4 linked regions of the Homo sapiens genome follow. The protein of the gene in region 2 interacts with the protein of the main gene of each other region in a pairwise test. Each region holds a gene or a part of one and is shown on either strand. Other genes may lie near its edges. The genes, in order: REP15, ZRSR2, TNFAIP8L1 and SRRM4.

Evidence for each region.
Region 1: the proteins of ZRSR2 (region 2) and REP15 interact in binary tests that used the Homo sapiens proteins (3 or more experiments, as listed by UniProt).
Region 3: the proteins of ZRSR2 (region 2) and TNFAIP8L1 interact in binary tests that used the Homo sapiens proteins (3 or more experiments, as listed by UniProt).
Region 4: the proteins of ZRSR2 (region 2) and SRRM4 interact in binary tests that used the Homo sapiens proteins (3 or more experiments, as listed by UniProt).

The regions. Positions count from the first base shown.
Region 1 is NC_000012.12:27,691,496-27,698,125, reverse strand, and holds REP15 (rab15 effector protein), read right to left. Parts: upstream 1,680-6,630; 5' UTR 1,564-1,679; coding exon 853-1,563; 3' UTR 530-852; downstream 1-529. Other genes in the region: PPFIBP1 (liprin-beta-1), read right to left, coding at 5,244-5,330, 5,470-5,535, 6,198-6,377.
Region 2 is NC_000023.11:15,800,469-15,807,497, reverse strand, and holds part of ZRSR2 (U2 small nuclear ribonucleoprotein auxiliary factor 35 kDa subunit-related protein 2), read right to left. Parts: intron 3,811-7,029; coding exon 3,702-3,810; intron 3,388-3,701; coding exon 3,301-3,387; intron 1-3,300. UniProt on the Homo sapiens protein: Pre-mRNA-binding protein required for splicing of both U2- and U12-type introns. Selectively interacts with the 3'-splice site of U2- and U12-type pre-mRNAs and promotes different steps in U2 and U12 intron splicing.
Region 3 is NC_000019.10:4,649,499-4,656,080, reverse strand, and holds the end of TNFAIP8L1 (tumor necrosis factor alpha-induced protein 8-like protein 1), read right to left. Parts: intron 4,215-6,582; 5' UTR 4,212-4,214; coding exon 3,651-4,211; 3' UTR 513-3,650; downstream 1-512. UniProt on the Homo sapiens protein: Acts as a negative regulator of mTOR activity.
Region 4 is NC_000012.12:119,152,540-119,159,568, reverse strand, and holds part of SRRM4 (serine/arginine repetitive matrix protein 4), read right to left. Parts: intron 6,031-7,029; coding exon 5,920-6,030; intron 5,327-5,919; coding exon 5,186-5,326; intron 3,075-5,185; coding exon 2,771-3,074; 3' UTR 1-2,770. UniProt on the Homo sapiens protein: Splicing factor specifically required for neural cell differentiation.

The sequences.
Region 1 (6,630 bases), on a different chromosome or scaffold from region 2:
TGTGAATACACCTTCCTTACTGCAAAGGCTAAACAAGTATTATTAAAAGGAATAGTTTTATAGGTCACTGTTTTTAAATCATAGGCAGAGCTAACACTAAAGTGAATCTCAAAGTAAATCCCATCAAAGTCCTCTCAGTGCAGAGACAGCAGCTAGGGAGAAGACAGAATAAGGTAAGTGTTAGAGGAAAAGAACGCTGTGAGTTTTGTGCAGGAGTCCTGAACCCAAACTATTTTTTTTTTTTTAAAGATGAGGATTCACTCTGTTGCCCAGGCTAGAGCACAGTGGTGCAATCACAGCTCACTGTAGCCTTAAACTCCTGGGCTCAAGCGATCCTCCCACCTCAGCCTACTGAGTAGCTGAGACCATAGGCATAAGCCACTGTGCCTGGCTTGAAACTGGCATTACAAATGTAATTAAACCTGCTCTGTAGCCTTACCCACTACTTTATCCTACCCATCTCCCACCAACAGATGCAAAAACACATTTTATACTTTTGAGTGCTAGACTTATTATTTCAAACAGACACTTTTTTTTTGCAAATCAAACTTTAAATGTGACTTTATTATCTCTCTTCCATTTTTATTATTGAATAAGTGAATGAAATATTAAACTAAATTATAACTTTTCCTGAACTGTTTTTAAATCATAGGCAGAGCCAGGGTTTTCTTTTTTTCTCTCTCTCTCTGTAATTGCGACATGAATGTACTTTGATCCCAGTAATCATTTTCAATCAATGGGAAAACAAATGAAAAAAAATCCCATGCTGGAATGATGCAAATAGGTGAGCTTGCTTATTAGAATCTTTTTTTCTTTTCCTCTTACAGGCCACTCACATAATACATATCCAAGTCAGAGAATGCTGATATAAACCTTGCCCACCTCTCTCAGCCCGTCTTTCTTACTCAGACAATTTCTGAGCAGCTCTTTGATGAACACACAATCTTCAGTTTCCAGGACAAACTGAGCCACAGCCTTCCCTCCTGGCAGATGGCTCCTCACCATCTGACTTTTGACACTGTCCAGGACAACTCCCCTGATGTCTTTAGGCTTTCCTGGCATACCAAAGATGATAAACAGACCCAGGCAATCCTCTCCTATTAAGTTACAGAATTCTTCCAGCTTATCAAATCTACTTTTCTTCCAGGAAGACTCCTCTACCCTTGATTCTGGATTGGAAAGGTCACAAGGCTTAGATTCCACAGGAGGAGGTGAAGACATCTGCAGAGTCTGTACTGCGAGCTGAAGCTTTATTTGCTTGTTGGATCCCCAAAAGGTCCAAATCCAGTCTGCACCAAACAGGAAGGCTTGGTGCTTGGTCATCTTGGTGGTGGTCAGCCACTCATCAACTCCCTTTTCTTGGCAGAAAGTGATGAAATGGATTAAGAAGATCTCATTCAGAGTATTTGCAGCTGGGCAGAGTTTACTTGGAGGATATTCAAATCCAAGGTACTCCTTCAGTTTCTGAGCTGCATGGACTATAGCTTCACTGACCACCTCACAGACGACGGGCACCTCTTTGCTGTCCTTCAGAGCCAACTGTTGCGATGCTTTCTGCCCCATTTTCTCTGCATCCAAATATCAAACATGTGAATCTGGTTCAGACGTACTTCTTTTTCAAAGTAAAAGTTCTGCAGGGAGGCCACATCTGTTAATGGTTCATGTTTTTCTAACTCTACAGCTTCCTCGGGTGTAGTTAAGCATATATACATACAGCTAAATAAACATGTTAGTTCTCTCTGTTTGTCAGTTGGGTGTGTTGTGTTCATACAGTTCCTGCTGGTTTATTAAGTTAAAGATACTAAATTTCACACAAAACATCTGTTCTATCTAGGTTATATTCACTCTACTTTTAATCTTTGGTAATCTCTTCCAACATGTTTCCTCTTTCCAAGTTTTAGTTGAAGTAAAAATAGCACGTTAGTTCTTTTTGTTTTTGTTTTTTGAGACAGGGTCTCACTCTGCTACCCAGGCTGGAGTGCAGTGGCGCAATCATGGCTCACTGCAGCTTCAACCTCCCTGGGCTCAGGTGATCTCACCTCAGCCTCTTGAGTAGCTGGGGCTACAAGTGTATACCACCACACCTGGCTAATTTTTGTGTATTTTTTGTAGAGGTGGGGTTTCACCATGTTGTCCTGGCTGGTCTCAATCTCCTAGGCTCAAGCAATCCTCCCGCCTCGGCCTCCCAAAGTGCTGGGATTATAGGCATGAGCCACTGCACCCAGCCCTATGTTAGTTTTTTAAATATCCATACACCTCTTTCTACAACTAACTTCTTCCAATCTCTAGGTGAGTCATTTCCATTTGCTTTTCCTATTTTCTTTTTTTGTTTGTTTTTGTTTCTTTTACCTTCTGCCATGATTCTTCATTCCCCAGCTCAGTTGCTTCTTTTCCTACAAAAGCTTCTCAAACAAAGGCCTCAAATTCCTATCTGTTGATACACATTATAAACTCCATTCGAACAAATTTATGGCAGTTTATAAAGAGATTGTGTTATTTTCTATGTCAGAAACAAAGCCTGTTACTATGAACAACGGAAAATGAAATAAGGGCAATAAAAATGAGGCAATTATCAATTGACTTTATTTCCTTTCATATGGTAACACCAGCAGTGTATGATATTTGTAAATAAAATACGTCATAAAAAAATTTAACCTTATTACCTATTATCAGTTAGGTTATACCATCCTGAATAAAAAATATTTGGGCCGGGCATGGTGGCTCACGCCTGTAATCCCAGCACTTTGGGAGACCGAGGGGGGCGATTCACGAGGTCAGGAGATTGAGACCTTCCTGGCTAACACGGTGAAACCCCGTCTCTACTAAAAATACAAAAACAAAATTAGCCAGGCGTGGTGGCAGGTACCTGTAGTCCCAGCTGCTTGGGAAGCTGAGGTGGGAGAATGGCGTGAACCCAGGAGGCGGAGCTTGCAGTGAGCTGAGATTGTGCCACTGCACTCCAGCCTGGGCAACAGAGCAAGACTCCGTCTCAAAAAAAAAAAAAATGGCGTCTGTAACAGTTTCCTGGTATTTTCAACCAGGTTCTAAGAACAAATTGATTTTTTGAAGTGGTGACATCTAGTCACATTAAAATAAAATCCAAATAAAGTAAGTTCAATACAGTTACCACATAATGAATGGTAGAGTTTAAAGAAAATTATTATTAGCATCAAATCAATTGTTATGAATAAATAGTAATTTGATATTACAAGTTCTTTAATGAATACCTTGGTAACTTGCTGACAACTTAAAAGATAATACCACTGATATTCAAATACAGTTTATAATCAAGTCCAGTGGCAGATACTGAACCGCCCACCTCCACCTCAATTTGTGAAAACCTGTCTTTTGTAGGGTTGGCTACCATGGGTAATTACGCAGCACTGAATAAAAAATAGAATATTTTTCTAATACTTCTACAAATATAATAAACACAGTAACAGTTTTTGCTGCAGCGATTTTCTTTACAAAGAATATTTGGGCCCAGTGCTACAGAAAAACATGAACTACATCTTATCGTCACAAAATAGCCATTATAAAATGAATTTTGCAGCCTCTGTTTTTTTGAACTTTGAAATAAAATGTTCAGACAAATATTCAACTTTTTAAAAACCTCCATTCATTGATAGCCTGAGAAATGTACAATGAACATGTTTAGGCAGACTGCTAGTATTTTGCTGTAATGACACAGTTAACAAAGAGAAAAGAAACAATACTGTAAAGGTTTCTGCTTTGCTTTTGGCTTCCTCAAAAACTATTTCTACAAATTTTGGGGAGAGGAGGTGATTCTGAATGTATTCAAGTTAGTGGTAGGCCAGGCAGAGTGGCTCACACCTGTAATTCCAGCACTTTGAAAGGCTGAGGTGGGAGGATCACTTGAGGACAGGAGTTTGAGACCAGGCTGGACAACATGGTGAGACCCTGTTTCTACAAAAAAACTTTTTGAAAAATCAGCCAGGTGTGAAGGGTGGGGTGGGGTGGGAGGCCACACACCTGTAATCCTAGCTATTAGGGAAGCTGAGGTGAGAGGATCACTGGAGCCTAGGAATTCAAGGCTGCAGTGAGCTATGATCACGCCACTGCACTCCAGCATGGGCAACAGAATGAGACTCTGTCACTAAAAAAAAACAATAATAATAAAAAAATAACAGGCTGGGCGTGGTGGCTCATGCCTATAATCCCAGTACTTTGGGAGGCTGAGGCGGGCAGATCACAAGGTCAGGAGTTCGAGTCCCAGCCTGGCCAATATGGTGAAACCCTGTCTCTACTAAAAATGCAAAAATTAGCCAGGCATGGTGGTGCATGCCTGGAGTCCCACCTACTTGGGGCTGAAGCAGAATGGCTTGACCCAGGAGGTGGAGGTTGCAGTGAGCCAAGATCATGCCATGGCACTCCAACCTGGGTGACAGAGCAAGACTCCATCTTAAAAAAAAGTATACTAATGTCCCTCAAGTTCTTCCATATGAGGTAAAGGGATCCAAGATTAAGGTTGAAATTCTTAAACTGTTCAACAATTTTGTGGTGTCATCAAAAAGGAATATTTCATATATATTAATTTAGCCTCAATGATCAACATTGTTAAAAGTCAGTATGGAGAAAGATCATTCTGACCTCTTCAGAAACCAGCTGGTATATGAACATTCTGATCACCAGATTGTTTTGAAAACGTGATCTTTTCACCATCGTCCTTAGGTCACAAAATAAAAGTTCTATTTTCTATGTACTGTATATATACATATATTTAGAAAAATATATAAAAATAAGACAATAAGAGGCAAGTGGAGGTGTGGCTGGCATTTAGTGGGCACACTGAATGCTTAAAGAAGTTCCACATATTGATTCTGAAATCATATAATGTCCTACTTAGGTGGCTACAGTGAACACTGATGTAACAAAATCATTCACATCCTGGTTACTGTTCCTCAAATCCTCCATACCGCGGATATGAATGGAAACACTCTGGTAAAATACTCATCTTAAATGCAACACTTTAAATATAATATATCACAGATTTTTACATTAAATAGAAGAAAAACAATTATACTCTCATTCACCAGTGTCTTATTTTTTGTGGCAACTTCAGAATCGGCACATTACTCCTGCTTTCTGTTTAAACTTCTCGACAGCAGAAGTTGGAACAACAAACAATAGACAATCCGCTGCCTGTTGTATATACTGTGAGTGTTTGGAAAAGCAAGTAGAAAAAAGACTAAGCACTCCTAATGTTCATCCAGGTGCTACGGTCAAACGTTTGAGTCTTCATCTGTAATGCTGGCACTGGGGGAACGGGCAGCAAAATCTTTAAACATGTCATCTTCTTTTAACATGTGCTGGAAAACAAGGAGACAGGGAGTCACACTGAGAGCCAAGAGCTCAGAGCTACACATTCTCCAAGAGACATGTGGTCCTTTGGGGTTGTTATAAAAGACATTTATAGAATAACATTTTCAATTCATTTCACAAACTCACCGTCAGATTGTTGATGCCTTCAGAGAATGCACCTATCTGTCTCACTGTCCCTTCTGAATCTTCCATCTGCAAATAACAAACCATAACATGACATAAGTGTTTTCACAATTTCAGGGAAAGTGCAGCAGGAGGAACAAAAGTCTAAGAAGAAATAATGCAAATAGCACTGAATGGGGTAAGAGCAACAGAACACTTCTGGTGATAATCTCCTTTCACCACTGCAACTGGAAGTGAAAAATTAGAAGAGACACTTTACTGACACAGCTAGTCTAATGCCTTTGCTAATAGTAGCAAAGCATTGTTGATTAGAGGGGAAATATGCGGTCCCACGACTTTAATCTGAAAAGGCTAGGTAGAATAACCTGTCCATTCCTAACATGTTTTAATACAGAGATGGCAAAATATTGGTAAATATGACAGGCTTTGGAGCCAAAGAGACAGGTTGGGGACCTTGGGCAAGTTACTTAGCTCTCTGTGCCTCAGTTTCCTTATCTCCAAAATGAGAATAACAATGCTCTCCATGTCTTAAGGTTACCATAAACATAGTATGCATTAAGTGCTTAGGATGGTACCTGGAAGATATAAGTGATCTCTAAGTGTTCACTATTATTATCTGTATTTTTAGTTATTTGAAGAAAATGTCCTTGATCAGACACAGTATACAAAGTTCCCATTTAGTGTCTGAATGATGGAAGAACTCGCAAAAAGTTATACAGTGTTGGATTTACCTGCTCTAACCGGTCCAAATCATCTTCCTCATACAGGCGCATATCCAAACCAGGTTTAAATCCTTTCTTAGATGCACTTCCTGATGCCTGTCCCAATTCCATTGGACAAACATATTCTTCACCATCTTCCTGTTTCTTCTTTCTCAAATTCCCAAAATTGCTAAAGGCAAGTTTCTTTGGCTTTAAAAGAAAAGCAAACAAAAACATCCAAAGGATTTGATAAAATTCATATAATCAAGGCCTGATAACATGTGATTTTTTTTTGCGTTGCCCCCTCCCTCCTATATGTATAATTTAATTATTTACCCCATGGTAGAGAGAAAAGTAGCTGGATGTTTAAATATGGATAAAAACAAAAGGGCATCCTAGGCATATAAATGATGCAATGATAAATGACCCTTGTTATGAATCTCAGGAAATTAACCTTATTCTT
Region 2 (7,029 bases):
GCCAAGACGGTGAAACCCCGTCACTACTAAAAATACAAAAATTAGCCAGGTGTGGTGGCACGTGCCTGTAATCCCAGCTACTTGGGAGGCTGAGACAGGAGAATCGCTTGAACCCAGGAGGCAGAGGTTGCAGTGAGCCGAGATGACGCCACTGCACTCCAGCCTAGGCGACAGAGCAAGACTCTGTCTAAAAAAAAACGAACAAACAAACAAACGAAAAAACCCAAAAAACAATGCTAGATGAAATCATAAACATTTAGCAGAAGCTAAAATATGACATGACCAGTGGTAATTAGCATTTAGGAGAAAATTCTAACTTTTTAATAAGGCAAAGGAGGTTCTGCAATATGCCAGTAAATTTCTACCTAATTGGCATTTGAACAAGTTGTACCTATGTTTAACAGACAGTCTTATCTTCCCTAGCCCCTTAAAGCATTACATAAGACTCGTATGTCTAGTTGCTTATTTGTGGTGCTCAAAACAGAACTCTTGTCCTCTACACTCCCTGGCCCACATCCACCTGAATGCTCCCTCAGTGAATAGTGTTGCCAGTCTATCTGTCTATTCAAACTAAAAACCTAAAAATATGACTTGAATTCCTCTCTCTCTCCTTGTCCTCTGGTCAACATGGTGAAACCCTGTCTGTACTAAAAACACAAAAAATTAGCCGGGTGTGGTGATGGGCGCCTGTAGTCCCAGCTACTCAGGAGGCTGAGGCAGAAGAATCGCTTGAACCCGGGAGGCAGAGGTTTCAGTAAAGTAAAAATGATCTGTTAAAAAAGTCTGGTGCAGTGGTTCACACGAGCACTTTGGGAGGCCGAGGCGGGTGGATCCCTGGAGGTCAGGAGCTCGAGACCAGCCTGGCCAACATGGTGAAACCCTGTCTCTACTAAAAATACAAAAATTAGCTGGGCGTGGTAGCAGGCACCTGTAATCCCAGCTACTCGGGGGGCTGAGGCATATGAATTGCTTGAACCCAGGAGGCAGAGGTTGCAGTAAGCAGAGATCACGCCACTGCACTCCAGCCTGGGCGACAGCATGAGACTCCATCTCAAAAAAATTTTTTTTTTAAATGAATGATCTGTTAAAAGGTACAGATATAAATGAGACAGAGTCATTCCCTGCTTAAACCCCTTCAATGGCTTCCCATTATAGGAAACATAAAATCCAAACTCCTCCTTCAAATCCAGGAAGCCCTACATGATCTGACTCTGCTTACCCTCCACTGCCCCTTCTCCCTCAGCAACCTCCTCCACTGCCCCCTCTCCCTCAGCAACCTCCTCCACTGCCCCCTCTCCCTCAGCAACCTCCTCCACTGCCCCCTCTCCCTCAGCAACCTCCTCCACTGCCCTTCTCTCCTTTGGACTCTAGATTTCAGGTTCCCTGGCCTTTTTTCAGCCTTCAAGCTTCAGGCTTCTTCTTGCTGAGATCTCTCCACTCAGGTGTCAGCTCAAACATCACCTCCTCAGAAATTTCCTTGAGCAGGCAATCTATAGAAGCACAACTCTATTCTCATTACTCTATCACATCACTCTGCTTTATTTCTTTCTTTTTTTTTTTTTTTTTTTGAGACGAAGTCTAGTTCTATTGCCCAGGTTGGAGTGCAGTGGCTCAAGCTTGGCTCACTGAAACCTCTGCCTCCCGGTTCAAGTGATTCTTCTGCCTCAGACTCCTGAGTAGCTGGGACTACAGGCGCCCATCACCACGCCTGGCTAATTTTTTGTATTTTTAGTACAGACGGGGTTTCACCATGTTGACCAGGCTGGCCTCGAACTCCTGACCTCGTGATCCTCTCGCCTCAGCCTCCCAAAGTGCTGGGATTACAGGCGTGAGCCACCACGCCTGGCCTGCTTTATTTCTTTATAGCACTTAATATGATCACATTTTGAATGATCTGTTTTGCTTATCATCTCACACTCCCATATAAAAAACTAGCTCAATGAGAGCAAAGACTGTGTCTTTCACTGCTCTGTCTCTGTCCGCTAGCGAAGTGTCTAGCATACAGCAGGAACACATACTGCTGATTCTTTTTTATAAGCTTAGAATCTATTTCATTTCCCTCATTTCTCCTTGAAGTCTCACAGATTTCCTCTGAAACAAAAGCATTCAAAAGAGGCCTTAGCTGTTACTGAATTCCTGAAAGACCTCAGTTGAGGAACACTCTACTGTTAAAATGGGAATTAATTCCTCTCTATAAAAAAATGACAAGTTCCAAACAATTTTTCTGCCCCCTAAAAACCTAGCATGAACTTGCCTCATCTGGAAAGAAGTGCTCAAATAAAGGTGTTTAAAATCTGCACTGAAATTAACTGATGGCCTAAGATACAAAAAACAAAGATCGTGGAGGCTGCTTCTGCCCCATATTGACTACAATGAAGACACATGCATTTTTCCCAATTATAAGGTGATTATCCAATTTTATGCTATTTAAATTTAGCTGTATTACAAAAAAGACAAATCCTGATGAATCAGTCAAGGGAAGATGAGCTGTGATACCTCTGAAATAAATATACTGTCAAGGAATAGCAGCAAAACATACCAAATCAATCCTTAAAAAAGAATCCTGGAAGATAGAGAAGATACATACACACATATGCCTCACAGATTTTTTTTTTTTTTTAAATAAGCAACTGTGTGTTAGCTACAATTATCTTCATAGCCTAAGTGGAAGAGGAAGTCAAGATTTAATACAAATAACAAAAACTGTTTCCTAGTTCCTCAATATTTGAGTTCCTGATTTCTTTAAATCCTCTAATTCTTGCTGACATGTCATAAGCAGTTCTCTTATGACCTAAATAAATGTGGAAACAAAACAAAGTATTATTCTCTAAAGAAGTCAACTCATATACAGCAGAACCTCAGAAGAACATAACTTGCTATAAAGCAAGGGCTAGCTGCCTGTTTTGTAAATAAAGCTTTCCTGGAACACAGCCATACCCATTCATCTACATATTATCGATGGCTGCTTTCAGGGTACACTGGCAGAGTTGGATGTTTGCCACAGAGACCAAACCATAAAGCCTAAAATATTTACCATCTGGCCCTTTACAACATTTGCCAATGCCCAGTATAAAGGGTAAATAGGGTAAAGCTGAAGAAAACTTTAAGGAATCTGCCACTGCACGGACCCGAAGAAGAGCATCAGAAGGGAACTCTGGTGTTATGTCTAAACTGAAATATGATTCTTTCCAAACAAACAATGAAATGACAAGAAAAAGAGAAAAAAAAAACCCAAACTCTGACATGCCTACTGATTATTCTTCAAACTCATCACACAGCACATCCCATGACAGGAATCACCTCTTTTTCTTTCTTCTCCTGTCGTTTCTGCTCCTCCTCTTCTCTCTCTTTCCTCTGCTGTTCTTCCCATTGTTCCTTTAACTTTCTCTTTAAAGGGGAAGAAAAAGTAACTTTGTTTCAGTCACTTTTTAAAAACATTTCACATACAGCGCACATAGATGAAAAACTTAAAACACTGGCAAACTGAATAAGATCAGTTTTTTGTTTTTTTTTTTTAAGTTCAAGATAGGCAACTCTTTTTTTTTTTTCTTTTTGAGATGGAGTTCCGCTCTTGCTGCCCAGGCTGGAGTGCAATGGCGTGATCTCAGCTCACTCCAACCTCCCAAGATAGGCAACTCTTCATGAGAGTTATTATGGTGAAGTAATCAGTTTGTTCACTAGTTACGTGATTCCTACCATACCTCTTGTTCTTCTTGCCGTTTTTTAGCCGCCTCTTCCTTTTCCTTCTTTATTCTGAATTCTTCTTGTGCCTTCTGCTCTCTTAGCAACCACTCCTCATGTAATCTTTGCCTATCAGTATAATGATGTAATCAGATAAAAGAAATGGGCATTAATCCACAAATACACACACACACGAGAGCAAAATGACACATTTTGGGACTGATTCAAATATCACGAAAGCTATTTTCTATTAAAGCAGTCAAGTGGGTGTAAGAGAACGAGAAGAGCAGAGCTTTTGGAAAAGCACCACGTGTCAGCAACTATCTTCCTAATGGGTAATAACTTAAAATCTCTCTTACATTTCATAGGTATATATGGCTGTGACATACTTTACAGAAAAAAGGACACTATGACTTTCCCTCTAGACTGATCACAGTGATGTTTAGGTGACAATAAAATGGGTAGCAAGTTTCAAAGCAGCATCTACCTTTTCATATTCAGAAAGCATTTCCCTTCCTATTCTATGCATTTATTTTTATTTATTTATTTATTTTGAGACAGAGTATTACTCTGTTGCCCAGGCTGGAGTGCAGTGGCATGATCTTGGCTCACTGCAACCTCTGCCTCCCGGGTTCAAGTGATTCTCCTGCCTCAGCCTCCCGAGTAGCTGGGATTACAGGTGCCCACCACCACGCAAGGCTAATTTTTGTATTTTTAGTACAGACAGCGTTTCATCATGTTGGCCAGGCTGGTCTCGAACTCCTGACCTCAAGTGATCCACCTGCCTCGGCCTCCCAAAGTGCTGGGATTACATGTGTGAGCCACTGCACCCAGCCCCTATTCTTAAAAGTAGCAATTCCATGATGGCAGCACGCTGAAAACCCAGTATCCTTTGCCATAAACCTTTGGACTACTACTACACACAGTTAAGAGACTCCTGTGGTTTGCCTCCAAACACCTAAACAGCCAAAAGAAGGAAAATAAAAGTACATTGTAATCATGTTTTTAAAATAAAGCTACAGGTTTTAAGAAATGGAGTTATAAAAATAAATTAGTGAGGGCCGGGCGCAATGGCTCGCACCTGTAATCCAGCACTTTGGGAGGCTGAGGCGGGCGGATCACCTGAGGTCAGGAATTTGAGACCAGGCTGGCCAACATGGTGAACCCCATCTCTACTAAAAATACAAAAATTAGCCAGGCGTGGTGGCAGCCGCCTATAATCCCAGCTACTTGGGAGGCTGAGGCAGGAGAATCGCTTGAATCTGGGAGGCGGAGTTTGCAATGAGCCGAGATCATGCCACTGCACTCCAGCCTGGGTGACAGAGCGAGACTTCGTCTCAAAAAATGAAAAAATAAAAATAAATTAGTGAGTGTCTAGTCTATTTTTTATATGACCAATTATAATGAGTGGTATTACCTTAAAGTGGCAAGTGTCTCAGACATCCAATATCACAAATTTCTAATATAAAGAGGGGGTTAGATTGCCAAAGTCTACCTGCCAATTAGGTGTGTAGAACCTCAAATTCATTCTTCCACTGAATTTATAAAAGGGAAATTAAATATGAGAAACTGTTCTATATTACTTCAGCAGTATTAGGAGTTCAGTAAAGTTTTATGTCTAGTCTGGGGACCTAACCACAATTTTAAATAAAATATATTACATTTCCAAATACAGATTCCAGGAACACATCTTTTAGCCATGGCAGAGGCTGGCACATTGCATCTATCAGTGTTCCTATGCCATGTGTGAGGGTACCATATAGATGTTTCAGTGGGCACAACTCTGATTTACAAATCTTTTGAAAAACATATAATTGTATATAAATGAACCAAATGATATATAAATTAAGACCACAAGAAAGTAAAATGTTAAAAATTTTAAAATTTAATAACTTGAATATACATCTGCTTTGAAATAGGACATAAAGTCATACAGTATTTTTACATAATTTTCTTGCTTTTCAATAATAGTATGCAACTCATAAAGAAATAAAGATCTAAGGAGCACAAAGATACATGTATGTGATTTAAAAGAAGCATTTCAAATAAACAGGAAAAAAATTACTCTCTTATTTCATACCGTATCTATTGTCTTCATCATAACAGAAATCTATAATAATAAGAACTAGAGCTATCACAGCACCTCTCATCTGCTGACACTGTGTTAAACACTATACATCCATCACCTCCTTTAATCTTCACAATTCTGTGAGGTGGATACTGTGATTGACTTTATCTCCATATTACAGACAAGGAAATAGAAGCTTAGAGACATTAAGAAATTTCGGCTGAGCGCGGTGGCTCACACCTGTAATCTCAGCACTTTGTGAGGCCGAGGCGGGCAGATCATGAGGTCAAGAGATCGAGACCATCCTGGCCAACATGGTGAAACCCCATCTCTACTAAAAGTACAAAAAAAAATTAACTGGGTGTGGCGGTGCGTGCCTGTAATCCCGGCTACTCGGGAGGCTGAGGCAGGAGAATCGTGTGAACCTGGGAGGTGGAGGTTGCGGTGAGCGGAGATCACACCACTGCACTCCAGCCTGGTGACAGAACGAGAGTCCGTCTCAAACAAAACAAAACAAAAACAAATTTTAAAAAAACATGTATCCCAAAAGAGAAAGGTGTGAGACTTGAGCAATCTACAAATAGGTAATAAAACATATAAAAAGATACTCTACCTAATTCAGAAATGTGCATTTGAAACAGTTTCATTATAGTTTTATAAACTGATAATGCCTAGTATGAGTGAAGGTATGGGGAGATGGGCCCCTACATTCACTGCCAGAAGGGCTGCAAACTGCAAACCAGGAAGCCCTTTCTACCTGGCCATCTACATTTTACATGGACTTATGATTTGATTCCAACAATCTCATTTTTAGTCATGTTCTTAAGGAAATAACTGGACAATTACCAAGGATATATAAGCATGGATGCTTACTGCAACTTTTTACATATGAGTGAAAAACCAATATAACCTGAAAGTCCATCAGTAGAGAACTATAAATTATAAATGAATAAACTATGAATAGCAAATAAATTATGCTACATCTGTACAGTGGGTACTGTATTGCCACTGAAATGGCTGAATTAGATCCCTGCATCAGTACTGAAATAAATGCACTATATATTTAGCAAGAAAGCAATTTATAGAAAAATATGTATAAATATCATGCCATTATAGAAAGACACACGTAAAGTACATTTACACTTTCTTTTTCTCTTTCTTAACAGTGGCTATCTTTGGGTGTGTTGCAATTATTAAAGTCTTTTCCCTTTTTACATTTGTTAATTTTTTTTGTTTTTTTTCTGTTTTCAAAAACAATTACAGGTCAGGCGCAGTGGCTC
Region 3 (6,582 bases), on a different chromosome or scaffold from region 2:
CCTCAACCTCCTGGGTCCAAGCCATCCTTCCAGATAGCTGGGACCACATGTGCATGCCACCCTGACTGGCTATAATTTTTTATTTTTTTATTCTGTTTCTGAGACCAAGTCTCACTCTGTTGCCCAGGCTGGAATGCAGTGGCACGATCTCATCTCACTGCAACCTCCGCCTCCCAGGTTCAAGTGATTCTCCTGCCTCAGCCTCCCAAGTAGCTGGGATTACAGGCACCCGCCGCCATGCCCAGCTAATTTTTGTACTTTTTAGTACAGATGGGGTCTCACCATCTTGGCCAGGCTGGTCTTGAACTCCTGACCTCAGGTGATCTGCCTGCCTCAGCCTCCCAAAGTGCTGGGATGACAGGCGTGAGCCACTGCACTTGGCCTTATATATATATATTTTTAGAGATAGGGTCTCGCTATGTTGCCCAGGGTGGTCTTGAACTCCTTGGCTCAAGTGATCCTCCTGCCTCGGCCTCCCAAAGCACTAGGTTTAACTGACATGAGCCACTGCGCCCAGGCTGGTGTGTGCTTTTATTTAAATTGTTCCGCAGTCCTATTTGGTTTGTTTCCTTTAATTAAATCTCAAATTTACAAGAGTCCAGACTGTCTGGACAGCCCAACAGGGACACAGAGAGTTTTACACACTGATGTCTCAACAGCACAGGGTTCCATCGGGACTTCGTGAGAAAATCAGGATCCATGTACGTTCTTGAAGAGCTGTCTCTCGGCCTAAGATAAGTGGAGAAGGTTGCCTTGGAAGCGTGGGGTAGAGGTAGGAACAGCTGGCTCTCTGGCCAAGGCCTTTGGCTTTTTCGCGGAAGCAAAAACCGAACCACGGGAAGGCTGCTCCGAGTCTGGGGTCAGAATTTCCTATCAGTGAGTGCAGCAGGCCAGGGAGAGGCGAAAGGGAGTGGAGAGGACTGTGGTGAAAGGGAGAGGGGCGGCCCCTGCACAGCTTCACCAGGCGTCAGTGCAGGCTCAGACGGCCGGACTGGCGAGTTTTCAAGAGAAACTCCAAATCCAGACAGGTGTGTGTGATCTCTTGGTTTTAAATGCAGACAAATTCCAAATGTCTCAAATACTGAATGGAGCCAGCTAGACCTACCTTCTCACCAAGTAAGGCCCACAGGCCCCTGCCGCAACCTCTACCCTCCACAGACAAGGTTCTGCAAAACAGTCATGGGACCTTGTTTCACCTCCCCCACAGGCACCCAAAATAACCTTCCTGACCTGCAGCAGCATTTTGCAATCTTTGAGAACCCCTGCCCCCTGCTGACAAACAAAAATGGCAAATAGACTCCCCCACACCACGCCTCCACGCCCTGAGCTGAGAATCGCCCGCATCTCGTGGGTGGTACCAGAGCCAAGACGACAGCCAAGCTTTGCTTTCTCAGCTCTGTCTTATAAAAGCAACATGGTTGGCTGGTTGGTTGCTGATTCTCCAAATATGAAATCACGATATTACAATGTGCACACTTTGTGAGGCCGAGGTAGGTAGGTCGCTTGAGCCCAGGAGTTCGAGACCATCCTGGGCAACATGGTGAGACCTTCTGTCTACAAAAAATACAAAGATTAGCCGGGTGTGCTCGTGCACACCTGTAGTCCCAGCTACCCGGGGCTGAGGTGGGAGGATCACTTGAGCCTGGAAGGAAGGGGCTGCAATGAGCCGAGATTTCACCACTGCACTCCAGCCTGGGTGACACAGCGAGACTTTGTCTCAAAACAATAAATAAATAAAATGTGCACACATCTCAGGTGGGTCCCCCCTCACCCCTGGGAGGTGGGCACGCTCCGTCCCCTCCCATGTGGCAGTCCCTGGATTGGAGCAGTTTCCCCTCCCGACCCAGGGCAGAGGTCTCCAGCTTCACGGAGGCATCCTGGCTGAACGTGCCAGCATTCACTGGAGCCTTCTTGAGTGGGGGCTTCCAGTACCACATCCTGTGGACTGAGGGGCTTCACGCACATTTATTCTCATTCAGTTCTCTGGGCCGCAAGTCTGAGATGAAGGTGTGGCCAGGGCTAGGTCCCTCCAAGGCTGAAGGGGATCTGCCCTGGGCCTCTCCCAGCTCCTGGTGGTGGCCGGCATCATTGGCCTTCCTTGCATGCATGTCTGTGTCCAAATACTTTTTTTTTTCTTTCTAAGACAGAGTCCCACTCTCACCCAAGCTGGAGTGCAGTGGCATGATCATCGGTCACTGCAGCCTCTTAACTCCTGGGCTCAAGTGATCTTCCCTCGTCATCTCTCAAGTAGCTGGGATTATACGTGTGCACCACCACAGTCACTTTTTTTTTTTTTTTTTTTTTTTTTTTTGAGACGAGTCTCGCTCTGTCACCAGGCTGAAGTGCAGTGGTGCAATCTCGGCTCACTGCAACCTCCGCCTCCCTGCAACCTGCGCCTCCCAGGTTCAAGCGATTCTCCTGCCTCAGCCTCCCAAGTAGCTGGGACTACAGGCACGCAACACCATGCCCGGCTAATTTTTGTATTTTTAGTAGAGACGGGGTTTCACCATGTTGGCCAGGATGGTCTCGATCTCTTGACCTTGTGATCTGCCCGCCTCAGCCTCCCAAAGTGCTGGGATTACAGGTGTGAGCCACCACGCCCGGCCCACCACGATAATTTTTTTTTTGTAGAGACGAGGGTCTCACCATGTTGCCCAGACTGGTCTTGAACTTCTGAGTTCAAGCAATCTTCCTGCCTCGGCCTCCCAAAGTGCTGGAATTAGAGTAGTGAGCCACTGCACGTGGCCTCAATCCCCCACTCCCCCGCTTCTTTTTTTGAGACAGAGTCTTGCTCTGTCACCCAGGCTGGAGTGCAGTGGCACAATCTCGGCTCACTGCAACCTCCTCCTCCTGGTTCAAGTGATTATCCTGCCTCAGCCTCCCGAGTAGCTGGGACTACAGGCATGTGCCACCATGCCCAGCTAATTTTTTGTATTTTCAGTAGAGATGGGGTTTCACCGTGTTAGCCAGGATGGTCTCGATCTCCTGACCTCGTGATCCGCCCGCCTCAGCCTCTCAAAGTGCTGGGATTACAGGCGTGAGCCACCGCGCCCTGCCCCAGGCCCCCTTTTTTTAAGGACCCCAGTCCTTGAATTGGGGCCCACCCTACTCCAAGATGAGATCATCTGAACTAATTCCATCTGTAATGATCCTATTTCCAAATCAGATCATCTTCTGAGGTCCTGGGGGTTAGGACGTGAGTTTATGGAAGGGGGGGTGCCGCGACTTGCCCCCTAACACTTCCCTTCCCCCAGTTCACCGTGTGAACCCGTAGTCCTTGTGCGAGGGATGAAAATCCCAGGCGACATGATCCAAGTGGGAGGCAGCAGCTTTTGGCTTTTACATCAAGCGACCCAGGGGTCGGCGTGGCCCAGAAAGTACAAACGGGTGAAAGGTGGTCCCCAGAGTAGGGCCCCAAATTCCTCTCCCCATTGGGCGGGGGCCAGGAGGAGAGGTGACATTGGTGTTTGAAACAGCTGCTACAGATGCCTCAGCATCCTCTCAAAGGAGACAGGTCACCCATCTGTCTAGGGGAGTTTGGCCGGAGTCCGATTGGGAGAAAAGAGGTGGAAAAAAACCCACAAACCCCACCCGCGCCCAGCAGGAGAGCCCCAAAAGGCGCGAGGGGCGCGGTTGGGCGGCGCCGGGGTTCAGAGGCTGCCCTCGTCCAGCATCCGGCCCAGGCCCTCGCAGATCCTGCGCAGGTGGGAGCGGTAGGGCTCGGCGGGGCCGTAGAGCGCAGCCAGGAAGTCGCAGTCGGCTAGGTGGCCGAACACGTGGTTGATGCGGCCGTGGGACTTGGCGGTCAGGTGGGGACCCACGGCCTGGTGCAGCAGGTCGCGGCACTCGAGCAGCCCGGCGGCCAGCACGCGCCGGTCGAAGGTGAAGTCCACCTGGTGGAAGCTGACGGCCGTCATGGCCAGGCAGCGCGCCCGGTGGCGGAAGCGCCGCAGCAGCGCCAGCTCCTCACCGCCCAGCTGGTCCCCACGCAGCAGCAGTCCCAGCTTCAGGGCCACCTTGACCAGGTTCTTGAGCATCTTCTGGGCCTCCTTGCGGCTGCGCGTGAACTCCCTGGTGGCGCGGTACAGCTCATCCAGCACCTCACTGCTGGTGTCATCCACCAGCACGGCCACCACTGCCTTGGACGCCATCTTACTCAGGAGCTTCTTCTGCGCCTGCAGAGCCAGGCTCTTGGTGCTGAAGGTGTCCATGGCCTGCGGGGGACACAGACCAGCCCTCAGTTTTGCACGTTGGGGCACTCCTCACACAGAAGAGGTGACAACACCACAGACCCCAGAGGGCCTAACGGAATTTGTTTCTTTAAAAAGTGTCATGCCGGACGCAGTGGCTCACGCCTGTAATCCCAGCAATTTGGGATGCCTAGGCAGGCGGATCGCCTGAGATCGAGGTTAGGAGTGCGAGACCAGCCTGGCAAACATGGTGAAACCCATGTTTCTCTCTACTAAAAATACAAAAATTAGCCAGGCTTGGTGATGGGTGCCCGCAATCCCCGCTACTTGGGAGGCTGAGGCAGGAGAATCCCTTGAGCCCGGGAGGCGGAGGTTGCAGTGAGCTAAGACCATGCCACCGCACTGCAGCCTATAATTCAAGCCTGTGGTTCATGCCTGTGGTCCCAGTGCTCTGGGAGGCTGAGGCAGGAGAATTGCGAGGCCAGGAGTTTGAGACCAGCCTGGGCAACATAACAAGACCCTATCTCTAAAAAAAAAAAATCAAAAATTTTATTTTGTATTTATTATTATGATTATTATTATAAACAAACAGAGAAGGCCCTTCTGAACCCCACTATCTGTAGGGTCTGATGCCAGCCCTCAAACCCATCATATCCTTGCTATGAGCTGAGAAGGGGCTCAAGGTGATTGTTACAGGGGGTTCCGTTCCATCCCCTAGGTCCAGCTCAACACTCCCCACCCTCACCCCACAGCTCCATGAGGTGGGGTTCCAAGTGAGCCCCAGACCCGGGGCTGTTCAGGGTGGAGGAGCCCCATTACTATGGCAGTGCCTCCAGTCCCACTGCCCCCGCAGGGTTGGTTTATTTATTATTTATTTATTTTATTATTATTATTATTACTATTTTTTGAGATGGAATCTCCCTCTGTCGCCCAGGCTGGAGTGTGGTGGCACGATCTCGGCTCACTGCAAGCTCCGCCTCCTGGGCTCACGCCATTCTCCTGCCTCAGCCTCCGGAGTAGCTGGGACTACAGGCGCCCGCCACCACACCTGGCCCCCGACAGGGTTTATAACAGGCATGTCCAAGGCCTTCAGCCCCGAGTGAGCCAGGGGGTGATGGGTTCACAGGGGGCCATTTGTGGGGTTTCTGGGAAGGCATGGCTCCGATGATTCCTCCAACAGGGAAACATTGACTTGGACAGCCCCCGTCCAGGCTGGGACTGGGGAGGTGGCCAAGGTGAGAGCCTGGCCAGCTCTCGAGGCATAAGGGCCAGGCCTCTCACTGCAGAACCATCCCCCTGTCCCTGTCTGCTCCTTTTCTCTGTCCACCCTGCCCTGTAGCCTGCCCAGTTTCCCCAGCCCTGGAGCTTCCCCCTCCACCCACCTCCTTCCTGCAGCTCCGGAATTCTTCCTAAATCTCAGAGTAGGGCATAGCCCTTACCTGCTGAGAACAAGCTGACAGCTCCTCAAAGCTCCCAGGACCAAGCTCCACACCTCACTTGGAGCCCTGACTCTTCCCTGTGGACCTCAATACCCTAAGGCCCCATCTCCTCCCTGGTGAACTCCTATACACCCCCCAAAGCCTGGCCCCCAAGCCCCTGCCTCTTCCCTGGTAAACTATACATCCCCATCACTTTGGCCCCCAAGTCTCTGCCTCCTCTGAGCCGCAGGTTCCCCAGGCATCCCCATTGCTCCTCTGCTCCCCAGCTCTGCACCCCAACTGGTCTGCCTCACCCCAGGCCACAGGGGAGGTCATGGGCCCAATTCCTTATCCACGGTGTCCCTGCAGACTCCAGAAACATCTGCTGAATGAAGAGGGGAGTGTGGAAGAACTGGCGGAGGAGGGAGGGCCTGAGACCCGCCCCCGGTCTCTCTCACTGCCCCAGACCCTGCTCAGCCTCCACTCCCACCCCAGCGCCAGGCTGCCAGCCTTGGAATGCCATGTGGGCACCCACCTACCCCAGGAGCCCCCACAAAGCCGGTCTTTGTGTGAGTTCAGACTCCGGGAGAAGTTCCAAACCCTCGGCCGCCCTCTGAGGTCAGGGCAGGCACGGGAATTGCTGGATGGGCCGCCCCTGCCCTCCGACCTCGGTCACCAGACCCTGGCTCTGCACAGGCCTAGGCCAGAAGAGGGGTGCTGTTGACTCAGTGCCACGTGGCAGACCCTGAGTCAGCGATGTGTGCCCACTTTGTCATCGCCACCATGTACTAGGCAGGTTGCCTGTTTTGCAGAAGAGACCACAAAGGCTCAGAGAGGCTGAGCCACTTCCCCAAGACCACACAGCAATACAGTAACCACTGGCTCTCAACGCCCTTGAACCCCAACTCCCTGTGCCTTCCCCACCTAACGCCCTCAACTGGCCGTGAGTCTTAGAGGGCAACCCTGATATTTAG
Region 4 (7,029 bases), on a different chromosome or scaffold from region 2:
ACCTTGTCAACCCCAAGTGCAATTCCAGTACTAAACCAGACATCATTTTCATCCACCATGGCCCTCAAAATACAAGGCAACTACTTCAGCAAGTACTCAACTGAAGCCTCATCACTCTGTTAGGAGATAGCACATCTGTCTCCAATCTGGTGCCTCCCTAAGGGACATTCACAAGGGATTTCGACTTTGTGCAGCCTTGGCCCCATTTGCCAACTTTCGACTCCAACCCCCACCTAAGTTGCAACTCCACTGTGTCAATTCATCACTGTAGCTCATAAGCCTCTGGGCTGTTTACATCTTTTTGATACCCCTGTGAGGTTCCTGGGGGACAGGAGGCTGGGGTACAGGCCTGACCCTCCTGGACGCTGGGTTAAGTGATGAATTTTGGGACTGATGTGCCTCCTTCTGGGCCAACCCCAGGGTGTTCCAGGCTTAGAGCCTTCAGGGAGAAGGCCAATAGCCCACTCACCTTTGGCCTCTCAAATCCCATCCATAAAAAACAGCAGAAAAAAAAAGGAGATGCACAGAAATAATTTAGGAGATCCCCCCAACACACACACACACACACACACACACACACACACACACACACACACACACAAAACCTCTGTATAAATAAATAATTCAATACTGCTAATGGCGAGAAAGAGAGACAGTCATCAAATAAATAAATAGATAAATAAATAAAATAAATAAAAAGGTTTGCTAGGAGCCCCAGGCAAAATGGTCCCCTAGAGTTGTCTTGATGAAGGCAGTCCGAACGTGAGGTTCTGATGCCTCTCACAGCTGTCCTGCTAAGAAGGTTTTTGGTGGCTCTGGGAAGCCTTTGTCTCCATGGAGGGAGACTGAAGTCCAGTCTGGGTTCCTGGGCAGGGACGAGGGTTATTTACAGTGGCTGTACTTGCCCTCCCCGGGGCACCTGCCCCTGTCCCAGGCACCTGCCATCTGGCCTTCTGCAGTGACAGCACTGGCATCCATTAGTCTTTGTGGGCAGGGCTTAGGTCTGGGCCAGAGGCCCGGTATGGGGAGGCTGGGTCGTCCACTGCTGCCCGGGGCCCTCACTCCTGTCTTCTGATGGAGGAAGGGCTGTCGTGGTGGTGGTTGCATGGCAGTCTCTAGCCCCATGGGTTGATAGGATGGGAAAGATTGGGTAGGGAGACGTCACTGCTTCCAAGAAAAAGGACTATTTTCCAAATGTTTTCCCTGGGGTGGGAGGGATAAAGAATGTTTGGCCCTTGCTTCCCCATAACCCAAAATATCCAAAAGCTGGGACCGGTCCTCTCTCCCTCGCTCCCTCCGTGCCCTGTCCTGCTGCTGTTGCCACCACAAACTTGAAACTCACCCACAAGCCTCCGGAAAGCCAGTCAGCTGGTGAGGGGGATGCCCAAGAGTTTATTTTAAGGATCTTATTCCTCACCTCCCCGTTCTTAGCGCCTTCTGTGGATGAAGCAGCTGGTGGTATTTGTGGATCGGAGATCAGCTTACCCTCTCTGCCCAGCCCCAGCCAGGGGGGACTTGGGGTGAGGGCAAAAATAAAGGTGGGTCTTTCCCAAGCTGACAAGAAACCTCAGAAGCCAGCAGGAGCCCAAGACATGGCATATCCAAGCCCCTCTCCCCTGCACTCTGGATTCGGGTCTTTTCCCCCAAACCTGAGCTGCTGTGCCCCATCCTGGCAAAATTCCTGAGAGGCAAGGGGAGTGGCTTAAGCTGAAGGGTGGGTGGGTAGGTGCCAGGCTGCACTGGGTGGCATCCAGGGCGTGGCAGCCTGGGCAGAGGGGAGGGGGCTGGCAGGCGCCAACCGGAGGGTAAGGCCAGACTGGCTGGCGCTGGGGCCTGGCAACTGGCCATGGCACTGGGGAATGTTCAGCAGATGGTCCCGTGGAATTAAGTTGGTGCCAGCTAGTGGGGCTGAGGCATATTTGGGAAGTGGGGCTGGAGACCAACCTGTCCTGACTCTTCCACTATCTCCTTTCTCGTGAGGTTGCAGGGCCCCTGTGAATGGCCAAGAGGTGTTTTGTGTCAGCCATGCAGTGGCCTCTTCACAGCTGGGATCTGCTGGGCTCTGTCCCCTTACCATGCTGAGGTATTGGGAGCAGCAGCTGAACCCTTCCGTTTTTCTATCTATCATCTTAACCAACTCCTATCTCCTGACACCTCCCACCAAGTCAAACGTCCCCATCTGGTATTCAAGGATATCCCTTCTTCTAGGACCCAAATGTCTTCCAGCCTTTGCTTGGGCCTGTTTGAGGAAGTTAAAGGCCTGACCCCGTTATCTTGAACCTGAACTGCCATTGGTCTCCTCTTTCACCCCTCTCAGACATGGGGGTCCATCCACGTGCAGCCATGAAGTTGGACTAGTGGGGCATCCGGGGAGGTGGGGAGAATTACCACGGGCCTCCTGTGAGCAGTGGAGGAGAAGAACTGTCTCCACATTTTCCTGGCCAGGGCTCAATTTTTGAGTCACAGACCCATTGCTTCTCACAAAACCTTGAAGTTTTCTTTTCTTTCTTCTTTTTTTGTGCCACAAGATGATGGTTCTTTCCATATGCCCAGGCCTGAGCTGGGCCCCAGGATGATGCTGGTAGAGGCTCCTAGCAGGCTGATCTAGAGAGTGAAGCCCCCTTACCCTCTTCTCCTCTTCCCCTAGGCAAGCAGGAAGGACAAGGTATAGGAGCCCTCACTATTTGTCACCAAGAAGGCGGGGAGGGCAGGTGGTTGGGGGAGGCTGGCAGCGCGAAGGGGCCCCCACGGGCAGCTGGCTCAGGGGCACTTAGCGCCTCGTGCTGGAGTAGCTGTCTGCTGAGCTGTAGCTCCGGCTCTGGCTCCTGCTCCGGCTCCGGCTCCGGCTCCTGCTCCGGCTCCGGCTGCGGGAGCCCGGACTAGGGCTGCGGGAGCTAGAGCTGCTGCTCGTGCGGGTCCGGCTCCGTCTCCGGCTCCGGCTCCGACTCCGGCTCCGGGAGTAGCTGCGGCTGGCCGAGCGGCTACTGCTGCTGCTGTACCAGGAGGAGGTGCTGCTGAGGCTGCCGGATGAGGAGGGGCTGGGCCGATAGTAGGGGATGGGGCGTTTCCGGGCACTGCAGAGACCAGAGAGAGGAGGGATGAGGGCCGGCCCCTCCGTGCCTCCCCGCAGCGAGCCCCAGTCTTGTCCCAAGGGAAACCAATATCCTCCCTTTCCCCAGTCCCTTAGGAAAAAATACTCCCTTTCCACTTCTCTTGCAGTGCTGAGAACACATCAAAGTAAAAGTCTCAGCTTAGTGCTAGTATGTCTTGAAAAATGATTATCTCACTTTTTTCTTTCCCCCATGAAGCAAGCCTGGAGCTCAGAGCCTTCAGCTTGCAACAGAATCTACATCTAAACTTTAATCATAGTTTTGTTTTCCTATTTTTACTTTTACTAGAACCATCTATTTATGGCAAAAGAGGCTAATTTTCCATTTACTGTACTGTATCGTTTCCTTTAGAAATAAATGTATGAACCTTTGAAAAGAGTCATATCTATTTAAAGAAAATTAAGAATAGTACAGTTGATAAACAGACAAGTCATATGTGGTCAAGATACTGGTGAATGACTAAAGATTGGGAAACACTGAATGGGTTAATCAAGATGAATTATTTGAGATTGACTAAAGAAACTAGACAGCCATTTGGAAATGCCACTCTCTATCTTAGCTTTCCTCTAGGTTGACCCCAAAGATAATAATAATACCAACAACTTCTATTTTGTGCTTATTATCCTGGCCACTTAATAGCTGTGTGACACTGGATCAAGGGAGTGGGTTTAGAAATTATGCTAGGAATTATATTGTATTATATTATATTAATTACATTTTTTCAGACAGGGTCTCGCTCTGTCACCCAGGTTGGAATGCAGTGGTGCGATCTCGGCTCACTGCAACCTCCACCCCACTCCAGGCTCAAATGATCCTCCCACCTCAGCCTCCCAAGTAGATGGGACCACAGGTGCACACCACCATGCCTGGCTAGTGTTTTGTATTTTTGGTAGAGACAGGGTCTTGTCATATTGCCTAGGCAGGTCTCAAACTCCTGAGATCCAGCAATCCGCCTGCCTTGGCCTCCCAAGGGTTTAGGAATTCTTTACAAGCTGAGGCAGGGTGCCCTGTGGGATATTGGAGAAGGGGACCCATCACCCCAGCCTTGCTATCTGGGAAACACATTCTTTTTCCTCCTCCAGGTCATCTCCAGGGAGAATCCCTGATTCCTCAGTCCAGTGTCTGGACTGAGTGGCAGATGCCTGGAAGGCCAGCAGGAAGAGCCCAACCCAATCTTAGGGCAGCATTCAATCATTCTCCCAGCTTTCAAGGCCTGAGAAATTTGCTTGCACTCAGACTTCTCTGCTAGAGCTTTTCTCTTCTGAGGCCTTACCTGTTCCAGGAACGGTATCCACCTATTCTGACCATTCAATCAACAATGGCACATTGTGTACTCTGCATTCAAGTTTACAAAGCACGTTCACATCTTTTTGCCCCTTTTCATTTCATCCTCATGCTTCTGGGAGTTATTTCTTCCAATATCTCATGGGTGAGAAAACTGAGGCTCAGGAAGGTAAGAGCCTTTCCTAGGTCACCTGCAAAGTGGTACATTCAGGATTCCAATCCACATCCAGTGCTCTCCGGCTTATCCACCGTGGCTCCCTCTAGGTCCCTTTGGGAACTAAGCAATCCTGTTTGTCCTTTCCACACTTGGTTCAAGGTATAATTACATATAGGTTTATTTAAGCCTGACAGCTGAGTGTACAGGTCTGAGGGTAGAGGTCTGTCTCCGCTGCTCGGGATCCACCACCAGGCCAAGGTCCTGCTCCATTGCTTTGGCCTCCATTCCCTGGCCTGACGCCACTCTCTCCCCCAGCTCCGCCTCCCCGGCCCCAGCTCCACCTCCCCGGCCCCAGCTCCACCCTCAGGCTTTGGCCACTCCCCCATGCCACACCCGATTCTTCAGGCTGGCCCCGCCCCCTTCTTGCAGGCCCTGCTGGTTGAGCTGGGAGACTCAGTCCCAAGGCTTTGAACAGACACGTAATTTCAATGATGTTGGGGTTGGGGGGACCATAAGCTCGCACAATCCTAAATCCCAGCCCCAAGGAGGCCTAGGGAGAGCCTGAGGCTCGAATGAGTAAGAATGGGAGTGGGAACGAGGATGAAGGTGGGTCCCCCTTGCCCCCTGGCCTCACCTGGTTATCCTCCGGGCCTCCAGGTGGCTCGGGGAGTCTCTCCGGCGCTTTCTCATAGGCGAGTAGGACCGACGTCTCCGACGCGCTCGCTCGCGCTCCCGCTGCTGCGAGTCCTTCTCACTGTATTTGGGATCCCGCTCCCTGAAGGGGCGCGGGGGGTTACTGGGGAGCTGGGGCTGGGCTGGATTTTCTGCGTGAGCGCGTGGGAGAGGGACACTCCCTTTCTTTCCCACCCCACTGGGTCACGGGATGGGGTCTGCACGTTGCCGCAAGGGAGACCGGAGGGAGGATGACGGGGCTGCGGTAAGAGTCTGCGAGGGTTGTTAGTACCGTAGGGGTGGGGGCTGGGCTTGTGCAGGGGTGTCAGCATTTGCAGGTGGGCATCATAGCAGGGCAGGTGCTGCAGGGGTGAGGACGTGAATGTTACGCAGGCCCTGGTGCGTGGGTAAGAACTGGGGGCTCTGAATATGGGGACGGTCTGTAGAGGCTGAGGGCTGGGGATGTGAATTCTGGGGTATGTCTGCGGGACTGTTTGGGCTGGAGACATTAGGAAACAAGGGTATTTGATGCCTCGCTGCCACTCCTGATTGGACAAAGGGAACTGTAAGAATGCTGAGTCAGGGTCAGACCTAAGAGGAAGAAGGCCCGAGAACGGGGAGGCGGGGCCAGAGAGGAGGATCAGAGCAAAGGGGTGGGGCCTAGGACGGGCCTAGTTTGAGGGGCGGGGCCGGTACCTGCTGGGGCTGTAGCGGGAGTAGCTAGGGCTGCGGCGGGACCTAGAGCTTCTGCTGGGCGGGCTCCTCTTGCCAGACTTGGAGGAATAGCTGGGAGAGCGGGAGTAGGACCTGGGGGAGAGGTAACAGCCTCTGAGGAGCCTGCTGAGTGTCCGCCTGGGTTATCCAAGACGGCTTGAGCTTTATTCAGCGGGTCCCTGGGCAGTGACCTTTTTCTTTCTGGAAGCCAGGCAGAGGAACTGGGCCCCGATCAAAGAATGAAAGCCCCTCCCCACCGGTGGTTAATAATAATACCAACAACTTCTATTTTGTGCCTACTATCCTGGCCACTTACTAGCTGTGTGACCTTGGCAGATGATTTCGTTTCCCTGGGCCGTTTTCTTGTCTATAAAATGCAGGTAATAATAGTCCTTACCCTAGACAATTGTAAATTGAATGAGTGAATTCGGGTAAATCACATAGCATATTGGCACCTATGCTAAGTATCAATTAGACAGGACATAGGAAATGTTAGCTATGACTATGACATATTTTATTATGTGCCAGACATTGAACCAGTGCTTTGTGTGTATTATTTAATCCTCAACACATCTTAGGGTTAGGTACTATTATCAATTTCATTTTATAGATGGGGAAACAGAGGCACAGAGAGATGATGCACTTCGCTAAACACAGCTGGTAAGAGATGTGAACCCAGGACTGTTTGCCTCTAAGCCAAATTTAATTCACGTCTGTTTGGTTTCAAAGTGCTCTTGATTTTTGTAGACTATATTGTTGTGCATCTACATGACTAATCCTTATGCTCCTCCTAGTCTTCTTTGCTTTCTGTTAATGCCTCCCACTTTTAGAAAACAGGGGCAGGAATAGCTCTTCCCTTCTCAGTGCCCTCAGCAGTGTCCAGCTATGGTCACTGGAAAAATGTGCTTTTGCCAACTTATGCTTTGGCTATGCATTGAGAGATATAAGAAAGAGTCAAGATGAAACCTGTTTTTGGATACTTTGAAAGGATATTATCAGAATTTCCATTCACTGCACCATATAGAGTCCCTTTTCTGTGGAGCCATCTGAGTCATTTTTCATAGAATTAAAAACCTGAAATAGCTGCTCTTC